Linked DNA regions of Homo sapiens. The protein of the gene in region 1 purifies or fractionates together with the protein of each later gene. This does not show direct contact. Each region holds a gene or a part of one and is shown on either strand. Other genes may lie near its edges.

What was found. The genes of interacting proteins can lie anywhere in the genome.
Region 2: the proteins of ERGIC1 (region 1) and INA purify together in Homo sapiens (affinity purification with mass spectrometry; 3 studies listed by BioGRID and IntAct, with this or other methods). This does not show direct contact.

What each region holds. Positions count from the first base shown.
Region 1 is NC_000005.10:172,830,196-172,837,265, reverse strand, and holds the start of ERGIC1 (endoplasmic reticulum-Golgi intermediate compartment protein 1), read right to left. Parts: upstream 3,016-7,070; 5' UTR 2,853-3,015; coding exon 2,833-2,852; intron 1-2,832. UniProt on the Homo sapiens protein: Possible role in transport between endoplasmic reticulum and Golgi.
Region 2 is NC_000010.11:103,287,138-103,290,846, reverse strand, and holds the end of INA (alpha-internexin), read right to left. Parts: coding exon 3,688-3,709; intron 2,488-3,687; coding exon 2,178-2,487; 3' UTR 501-2,177; downstream 1-500. UniProt on the Homo sapiens protein: Class-IV neuronal intermediate filament that is able to self-assemble. It is involved in the morphogenesis of neurons.

The DNA.
Region 1 (7,070 bases):
CATTTCACAGACAGGAAAACACAGAACTCAGTTGCACCAGGCTCTACAGGCAGTAAGAAAATCAGAAGTATCCGTAGGGAAGGGCAAGAGTGCACTATTTTTCCTGCTTCTGATTTTAAGAAGGGGAACACGAGCAGGACGGCTGGTTTTCTCCCTGGCCTTGAACTGGGGGAGGAGGTCTAATCACGGTATACCCCTCTCCACTCCCCACAATTCTTAAAAGAGCTGACAGGATGGTGGGCCCCTCCAATCTCTCCCTTTTCTCCCAGATCTAAGGCTTTGGAGCTAACAGCCCCAAGTTCAAATCCCAGATCCACCAGCTCATGCACTGCATGGCCAGAGCAAAGGGCTTCTACTCAGTGGAGCTCCCCTCTCCTTTGATTTAAAATGAAGATTAAAACTCCCTCTCTCAGGTGACAAGGGAATCGATGTCTGCACCCCAAAGTGTGTATACAGTGGTAGATGCTCCTTGCGTGCCAGTTCACGCACACCCCCACTCCTGGGACCCCATAAGCCCTCCTCCCTTCTCTTGGAATGCAAAGAGAGCCGGACCACATGCCACCCACCTCCTCACGGTGGGGCCTGTGGCAGAGGGCTGAGCATGGACTGGACACTTGATGAATGCTTGATGAATGCACACTGAAGCGGAGGAAGGTGCATGGGGATGGTCGAACCCTCAGTAGAACCCAGGTCCTGGAGCCTTGAAGTTCACAGAGCTTAAAGAGTGCAGGTTTGCTGGGCACACATGGCTCATCCTCCAAGGTGCAAACGTGAAGCACTGAATCCATTCTCACCATTCCGCAGTGAGCCCAAGCCCTGAGAGTATTTCCTAGTTAAGCTGGGCCCCCTGACACCTGGGCACTCAGGGACCTGAAGTATGCCAAGGGAGCCCCAGACTAGCCAGCTTCTCAGAGCTGAGCATTTCTCTCTTTAAATATCAATGCCTGACACAGGGCCCTTCCAAGGCCAAAGGCTAGAGCTGGCCTTACCCATTTTCCTTACTTCCCTTACCTGCCCCCACAAGCCACCAATTCAAGGAGCACAAGGTTGGGAGCCATGTGTGACCTGAGACCTAAGTCTACCCTTCCCATTTAGCACCCATAAAGTCCAAGATAAGGCCCTCATCCCTGGAGCCTCATTTCCTCCTTGGTAAGACGGAAGGGTGAGGTGCAGGGAGAAAGGATTAAAAGATCAAAAACAGCAATTTCCCCAGCAAGCTCAAAATCACCGGAACCTACTGAATCACACAGGGGCAGGGGGCGGCGGTGGCACGAATCCCTATGGTTGGCCTGGGTAAGGGGAGGCTTTGTGGAACCAGAAATTGATGTGCCGACCACAGCTCTTATGGCCCAGACTTAACTGATGCTATTAGGACTGACCTTGAATTCCACCAGAGGGGCTGTCCTTGTTCAAAACTGCCTAGGTCTGCTAGCCTCAGGGCTGCCCGGCAGGGGCAAGAAGCCGGCAAACATTTGCTAGCTGGTATCAGGGACCCGGACAGGCTGGAAAACCATGTCAACCAATCAAGAGGTCCAAGACCAGTGTCCTCTTTGGGCCTAAACCCCAATATATCCCATGCTATGGGGGTCATGGCAGGCTAAGGGCCTTTCTCTCTGGGTAGACTGTCACTTTACACTGCCTTCACATGCAAGAAGAGGGGAAGAAATACCTCCTGTGGCACAGGCATCTGAATCACTATTTTGTGGATGTGGAAAACCCCTCCTGGAGAACACCCCCCATCCACTAATGCCCTATTTCTGAGCTCTAAATCATGCCAGACTCTGCTAAGGGTGTTTCACGCACTCAGTCGTCACAAGCGGAGACCTTATTTTTAGCCCCAATTTGCAGGTGGTGAAACTGAGGGCGCTCGGAGACTTGCTGAGGTCAGCCAGCCGAGCGGCGACAGGGAGTTCTGAACCCAGAGCCTTTGCCCCTAACTTCTAGAATATACCGAGCTGTTCAGTAGAAAGGGCAGAGCCAGGATTCTAATCCAGCTCCTCCCTGCATTAAAGCCCTGCTCTTTTCCCAGCCAGACACCAAGTGTGGCTGCCTCAGGCCAGGACATCCCCTGGGGCTCCACACCTCAAGGGAACCTCTGGTGGAGATCTCTTCCCCCGCAGGCTTCCAGAATGCCCCATGCAACCTAGACCATGAGGCAGCTGGACCCCACAAAGGACCCATTGTGGTGACTGCAGAAAGCCAAGGCCAGACCCCGGTGGCCCTTCTGCAGAGTCCTGCCCAAGGCGCCTCCTCCCCTTCCCATGGTGCCCCCATACCCAGCGGACAGGGCTGGGGCTGAGGGAGGGAGGGGCGGGGGCAGGCCTCCCGATCTGCCCGGCCTGGGGGAGCCTCAGGCTATAGAAACTTAAAACCCTCCAGCTGCCGGCAGGCTGCATGGGGCCCCAGGCCCCTCCGGACTCATTCCAGGTGCCCTGCCCCACCTGTCAGCTGAGGTGGGGTCCACCAAGGAGGCTCAGTAGAGGGAGGAGAGGGATGCTGGGGTGTTATGGGCTGTTCCCATCTGGGAGGAGGGAGGAAATGTTTCCTAGTGTGGGGGAGGGGAATGCAAGGTATCCGGGCAGGCTGGGGAGGGGGCTCGGCGGAGGGAAGGTGGGTGGATTTGTCTCCCGCTGCACGAGGGGGCCTCCGCGGCTCTGGCTGGCTTCGTGTGCGGCAGGGGGGGGGCTCGCCTGGGGTCCCTAGGGGCCTGCGGAGGCATGCACAGGGCGGGGAGCCGCTTTTGCATGCAGGGCGGGAGGGGTCCGCGGCGTGCCGGGGCGCTCCCTCTGCCCGCTGAGGGAACTCCCGACTGGCCGGGGTCGCCACACTCACCTCCTGAAGTCAAAGGGCATCGTGCCGCCGCCGGGGGTGGGAGCGCTGCAGGCCAGGCGGGCCGCGGCGCCGCGTGGGTCCGAGCCCGCTGCCAACGCCTCCTCCGGCCGCCCCGCCCCCGCCGGCCGCCCCCCTGACACTCGCCACTCGCCACTCGCCACTCGCCTCCCGCTGCCGGGAAGTGACGCTCCGCGCAGCCCATTGGGCGCCGCCCGCCCGGCCGCCCCTTCCGCCACCCGGTTAAAGGGGCCCGCGGGCAGGCAGGGAAGGGGCGGAGAGTCGAGGCTGTCGGAAGGGAAGGGAGTCCCCCAAAGACTCCAGTACTCATTCCTTCAAGCCTCCCACTTAGATTTCCTTCTCCATCTCTTTGGATGCCCTCGGACAAATTCTCTGCTTCTCCGAGCCCAGTTTTTTGCATTTGTAAACAGTTTCACTGAACTGTGATTGAGTTGGGGGCGGGGGGCGGGGTGATACAGACTTTGGCCGTGCACAGCGTCTAGCTCTGAGTGAGGGCCTAATACTGTGGGGGAAGGGAAGAGGTCGGCCATCCTAGGCTGTTAAGGTGGACTCACCTCTGCCCCTGCCGTGTCTCTCTGGGAAAGCCACTGGGCTTCTCAGAGCGCCCCCCCCCCGCCCCGCCCCTTTTGCATATCTGCACAAAGAGGACGATGACACCTACTTGAGGGGGTTTTCCTGGGGATCAGCTGAGAAACAGGAGACTGGCTTAGCACAGTGCCAGGCACCTGAAACTATTGAGGCTGGCAGTGGCTGTCCCTGCTTCCATCTGCCCCTGTCGTTCACTCCAGTGGGCATTCACAGAGCATCTGCTCTGAACCAGGTCCATCGAGAACATGCAGGGTTGTGGCAGAGGCAGATGGGACCTGCACTGTGACTTGGCCAACGTGGACTGTGCCGATTGTCTCCTTCTTAGAGCCTCAGTTTCCTCCTCAGGAATACAGAGCAGCTGCCTCCGTGACTGCTGGATTAGAGGAGATGGTAGTTGAGGTCACACAAGACCTGAGTAGGGGAAACTCACTCTGAACTTCCCCGAGGTTCTGTCACTGGCCCTTTCTCCAAGGTTGTGGTGGGACAGGGCTTCAAAAAACCCAGGGGAGAATGGTGAGGGCTCGGGTTCCAAAAGCAGAGTCAATGGACAGTTTCCCCCTGTGTAAATAGAGGGGAACAGCAGTGCTGGTTCCTCCGGGAGGATTCAGAAGGGACAACACTAGCACGGGGTCTGGGGTAGGGTGACGTGGTGAACCAAAGCCTTCCCCTAGAGCATATGCCGGGACCTGACCTCTGCGTTCCCTTTTCATTCATTCACTCATTCATTCATTCATTCATTCAGTGTCAGTGGTCTGACACTGTTGGGGGAGAAAAGGAAATCTCAGCCTGAACTGGAAACCTAGGGACAGCAGGGAGAGTTAAGGGATCTTGAGCAGCCACTGCTTCCAAACAGCCATTCGTTGGCCCTGTGTGGGAGGAAACATGCAATGATGGATCTTTGACCTCGAATCCTCCCTCCTCAAACTGTGGTCCACAGACCAGCCACATGGCCATCACAGGACAGACTCTTGTCCCCAGGCCAGACCTACTGAATCAAGTGTGCATTTGGGATGATATCCAAGGTCAGCAAATGCCTGGCACAGAGTAAATGCAAGACAGGGTTGACTATCATTGCTCTTTTCGAGTGGGGATAGAGCTCCCAACTTTTGGCTGGGCATGTGGGTGCTCACAGTGAAAGTTGCATTTCCCCAGCTTCCTTTGTAGCTAGATGTGGCATTGAGAAGTAAAGGGAAGTGTCTTGTGGGGCATCTGGGATAGTTGGTATGTCTGCTTTACCCTCTGTGTCCCTTTCTCCATCTGGCTGCCAGGAATGTAGGCGTCACCATCCTGGACCATAAGGTGGAGGCCACCACAGAGCAGAGCAACAAGACAAAAAGAGCCTAAGTTCCTGCCGGGCACAGTGGCTCACACCTGTAATTGCAGCACTTTGGGAGGCCGAGGTGGGCGGATCACCTGAGGTCAGGAGTTCGAGACCAGCCTGACCAACATGTGGTGAAACCCTGTCTCTACTAAAAATACAAAAATTAGCCGGGCGTGGTGCCACACGCCTGTAATCCCAGCTACTCAGGAGGCTGAGGCAGGAGAATCGCCTGAACCTGGGAGGCAGAGGTTGCAGTGAGCCCAGATCACACCACTGCCCTCCAGCCTGTGCGACAGAGTGAGACTCTGTCTCAAAAAAAAAAAAAAAAAACCTGAGTTCCTGTCTCTAAGTGGCAAAATACCTGTCCTCAAACACCTGCCCAAGAGAAACAAACATCTATCTTATTTAAGCTATTGTTATTCTGTATTTTCAGACACTTACACCTAAACCCAATGCTGATACACCTATGCAGCCTGGCTAGCTACTTGACTGCCCCAATGCTCATGGACTAGGCCAGTCCCCTATTACATAATCGCATGGTACCTTGTAGGTTTCCTTGGGAGAACTGGGCATGACGTGTGATTAGGTTATTATTAATTCGCTAGTAACTACTACCCCATCTGAGTGAAAGTTCCCTGAGAGGGGCCTGTCGGGGGGTAGGGGGCTAGGGGAGGGATAGCATTAGGAGAAATACCTAATGTAGATGACGGGTTGATGGGTACACAAACAATGATGCCATACACAAATGGCACGTGTATGCCTGTGTGACAAAACTGCACGTTCTGCACATGTATCCCAGAACCTAAAGTATAATTTAAAAAAAAAAAGGAAAGTTCCCTGAGACAAGGTGGTATCACCATCATATCCTAGCATCCAGCCAGACCCTGCACATGCTGGGGATGCACTAACTATGCGTTGAAGTTTGAATAGAGGCTTCCCAGGGAGGCAGGCCTTCCCACGGAGGCAGGCCTTACCAACAGAACAGCGGATGGGAGGGGAGGTATCAACATGGGCCTCCGCTGTGGGACTGGTGAGGTCTGTGAGCAGACCAGGCTGTCAGTCCCAGATGGTCCATCCACTCAAGAGCCAGTGGGAGATGGAGCTAAGAAAATCAGATTGTGTCTGCAGTACGTGGGAAGGCTCTGGGTCTCTTTGAGCAGGGAACAACAATACAAGTTAAGTTTTCGGATTATCAATCTTGTGGAAGCCTGTGGTAGGTAGCCAGCCTCCAGTGACCCTGATCTCCTGGTATTCCCATGCCCTTCTAGAATCACCTCCCACAATGAATAGGGCTGACCTATCCTGTGTAATCAACAGGATATTGCAGAAACGACAGTTATGACTCCTGTGGCTACGTCACAAAAGACTGAGGCTCTGCTTAGCCACTCTTGAATCACTCGTTCTGAGGGAAGCCAACTGCCTGTCCTAAAGAGGCTCAAGCACGATTATAAAGGGGCCTGGTCGGTGAGGAATGAGGCCTCCCACCAACAGCCATGTGAGTGGGCTCTCTTGGAAGTAGCGGCTCAGCCCCGGTCAGGGCTTCAAAGCTGCATCCCCAGCCCACAGCTTAACCACAGGTTCTTGAGAGACCCTGAGAAACACCCAGCTCAGCTGCTCCCGAATTCCTGATCCATAGAAACTATAAGATAATAAATGTTTGCTTTAAGCCATTAAGTTGTGGGTAATTAGTTACACAGCAGTAGATAAATAACAGAGACTCCATCCTCATTATTTTTTTTTCCTACCAGTAACTTCTCCCTGCCTTCCTCCATCTCACCCCCCGCCAGCCTGGGGAAATAGAAAACCACTTTGGACTCAGATCACTCTCTGCTGGGTGACCTGGACCAGTTGCTTAACTAGCTGGGTGTCTAGGTATGAAATGAAGGATAATAATACCTTACCTGTGGCAGGTAGCCTCTGAAATTGTCCCAATTAACCCACCTCTTGGTATTCATACCCTTGTGTAATTTCCTCCCTTCAAGTGTAGGCTGGACTTATGGACTCATTTCTAATGCACAAAATATGGCAGAAGTGATGAGCATGTTGCTTCTGAGATTAGGTTATCAAGAGATGGTGACTTCTGTCTTGGACACTCTCTTGCTATCTCTTGGATCAGTCACCCTGGATAAGCTGGCTTCTGTGTGTGGCTTCTGTGCCCTAAGGAAAAGCCCCTGTGGGTGAGTTTGCAAGTGATTCTTCTAAGGCAGGGGTGTCCAATCTTTTAGCTTCCCTGGGCCACGCTGGAAGAAGAAAAACTGTCTTAGGGGCCGGGCGTGGTGGCTTACGCCTGTAATCCCAGCACTTTGGGAGG
Region 2 (3,709 bases), on another chromosome or scaffold:
TTTTCCATGTTATCTATTATTCTGAATTAATCATTTTTCAACTCTGTAAGTTACTCTTCTTTTTTTTGAGATAGGGTCTCACTCTGTTGCCCAAGCTGGAGTGCAGTGGCGTGATCTCAACTCACTGCAGCATCCACCTCCCGGGCTGAAGTGATCCTCCCACCTCAGCTCCCCAGTAGCTGGGACTACAGGAGCCACCACAGTTGGCTAATTTTTGTATTTTTTTGAGAGATGAGGTCTCCCTATGTTGCCCAGGCTGGTCTCGAACTCCTGGGATCAGGCCATCTGCCCCACCACCCCCACCTTGGCCTCCCAAAGTGTTGGGATTCCAGGCATGAGCCACCACGCTTGGCCAATATCTTTCTTCTATAAATAAGTTCATGGCAATTAAGGTGGCTCACTAAAAAGAGAAGATACAAATCAGTCAGAGCCAGACTGACTCTGAACCCAAACAGTGCTTCTCTCAGTGAAAGGGCAGGAACCACAGAACACGAATTATGTTGGTGAGATTCGTGTGACTTTTAATTTATTATGTTACTAATGTCTTACAGTAAGTGTGAGGAGTAAAGACAGGGATGGGGTAAAGGTAAGGAAAAGTATTTTTCAAGTTCCTTGAACTATTGAAGCATGTGCTAGGATAAGAAAGTTCAGTAAAAGCATCATGTCCTTATCACCAGAGCTCTTAAAGGAGACATGGAACAGAGACGGGGCAACTCTTCAGCTCTGGCCGAAGTGACTGCTGGACAGAGAACAAATCCTGCATCAGCCTTGGCACACATGAAAGACTGGGCAATGCAGATGCTACACAGTTGGGCAGATGAAGAGCTGACTGTCCAGAATCTACTTCTAGCAAGCGAGTAGGCGCATGCACACCCCTTCTCTGGTCTGAGTGTCTCTTCCTCTCCGGCAGGACCCCACCAACTGTGCAGCCATGGGGTAAGTGTTAGGGAAGTCTTTTAGAAAAGAGAAAGATGTCTTTCTTATATATACGCTGGTAGTGTTGATTGACCAGAAGTGGTTTCTTTTACTTTGGGGCGGTAGCATTGTGTTCTGGTGACAAAATATCCTACACTTAGCACTCGTAAAAGGCATAGGAGAGTGAAAGCAACGCCTCTTTATGACCTAGGCTAGTGGGAAGGGGAATACGTGGATTCTAAGGGTAAGGGGATGAAAAAGCTAATTCTATATCACCACAAATGAACTGACACATAAATGACACCTTGGCTTTTTCCACTCATAGAAACACTCACTTCTTCTAGCTTACACTACTAAATCTAAGGTCGGCTTCATCACAGTTTGGGATATTTACTGTGCTTCTAAAGTAAAGGTGAAAAGCTACATCCTTAATAGTTTTTTTCCTAATTAAATAGATTTGTGTAAGCTGAAAGCCTAAAGTCTAGGGATTCTTTGCATTATTTTATATGTTGGGGGAAACCCTTAAAATTCATCACTGCCATTTTTTTAACCTACAGAATTGAAAGAATATGAAATGGGCAGGGATAAGTAATTACACGAATCATAGACATGGTCAACATGCATCTAATTTTACCCACTGAGCAGAGCGCGAATGGGGGTAAGTTCTTTTGAGAAGAACCAAAATGTGTTTAAAAGGGAAGAATACTACACTAGACTATTTTTTTCCTACATAGAAGAAAAGGATATATGGAATTGAAGGAGGTGAAAAGTGTCCATTAAACAAACACCTATTATTTGTGAAATAATTCTATCAGAGTGGAATTGGGTGTGGACCATTAGTTTATCTCTGGCAGTGATCTTATGTTTTAGGTATCTAGAGTAAGATTATTTAGCTGGGTAATGGCTGGGTAGCATGAATAGTTTTAATTTCAGTTCACAGCAAATGACGATGATCGCAGATTTAGCACCTTAGTTTGTACTTCCTCTGCACCTGAATCATCGATCACTGTGAAGCGTGAGCTGAAGGTCAGAAAGCTGTATTCTTAGATAACTCATCTGTGATTGCTCCAGGACTGCAGTTTACTTCAATCTAAGGGGTGGTTTTCTTATTAGAGAATGTAAGTATTCAATACTAAATATGAGACTGAAGCCTTGAAGACATTTTATAGTGGTGGCAGGTGTTATAGTTCAGGAATAGGCTGTTTAACAAGTCAAATGCATATCATTCCCTCTTAAGCATTAACTTTTTCAAAGCAATGGAATTATATTTTTTGGCTTGAAATGGTGGTTTCTTCTATATTTGATTTCTCGGTTTTCTTAGTAGATATTACTGTCTCCTCTAATATTTCTTCAAAACTTTCCCCTATCTGGGAGGTTTTCTTAGAGGCTACCTTAGATGCCTCCTCCTCCTCCTCCTCTTTCTTAAGTGATAGCCCAGTGGATGAGACTTTGGAGGTTGTAGCACTGAGGATTCTAGGTGGGAGCAGGTAACTTGGATTGGGAAGTGGATTCAGCCCCGAAATGCTTAACCCACTGGTGCTAAAACGTGTCTCCTCGCCTTCCAGCAGTTTCCTGTAAATTCAACAGAGAAAAACTCTTAGGAAGTCAATAACTTTTCCCCCCCAGAACTCAACCCTCCAATCCTGATTCATTTGAGAGAGATTCCAAAGGACTTTGGAGTTTCTTCATGAGATTGAAACCAATAAATATTTAATTTCAAAGCTCAAAGGGTTGGACCACGTGCATACGCATGCGCACACACACACCCCCCTTCAGCACCAGCTATGTTTAAAGCATTGTCAAAGGAAAACCTATCCTGTTCACAAATATATTCCAGGAGGAAAACCTGCAACTCCACTTGGCCACATCACACCCATTTTTGGCAATTAGCAACAAAGCTCTAGGGAGAAGTACTTTTCCTAAGTAACACCTTAGCTGCAATAGGGATAAGGAGGTGAGATGTCCACAAAGGTGGTAGAAACTGTCTTACTCAACCTGGATTTGAGATTTGTACTTTTTCAGTGTATACGGGTACAAAGGGAATAGAACCAGCAATAACAAAAACCAGTGAATGACACTGTTTCAGATAACAGATTTTTATCAGCGTGACGAAAACAGTCTTATAAAAGAGTGGCCCCAAACCATGTTTCTCATAACTCTTAATAGTTTTTAATTATCCTTTTTTTTTTTTTTTTTTTTTAGACAGAGTCTCACTGTCTCCCAGGCTGGAGTGCAGTGACATGATCACAGCTCACTGCAACCTCCACCTCCCAGGTTCAAGCGATTCTCTTGCCTCAGCCTCCAGAGTAGCTGGGACTGCAGGTGTGTGCCACCACGCCTGGCCAATTTTTGTGTTTTTAGTAGAGACTGGGTTTCACCATGTTGGCCAGGCTGGTCTTGAACTCCTGATCTCAAGTGATCCACCCACCTTGGCCTCCCAAAGTGCTGGGATTATAGGAGTGAGCTACTGCACTTGGCCCCAAACCCTATTTTTAAAGTTACGAGTCTCATGGGTTTTTATTTTAACCTCTGTGTACTCACATTATCCCCTTAAATCCTTTCAGAGGTACACAGAATACTCTGGGACTAGTCAGATGGAGCTGGATTATATCTAAGTAGAGGGACAGAGCAGTCAGCTCACCTGAAAGGGGCCAGTGATGCCCTTCTTCCCTCCCTCACCAGTCAGAAGCCAGAGAGACTAGATCCACTTATTTGGGCAGCATTGCCCCTAGGTGACTGGATTTACTCGGGTAAGCAGGTCCTTTGCAGTACCTGTAAGCTGCTATCTCAATGT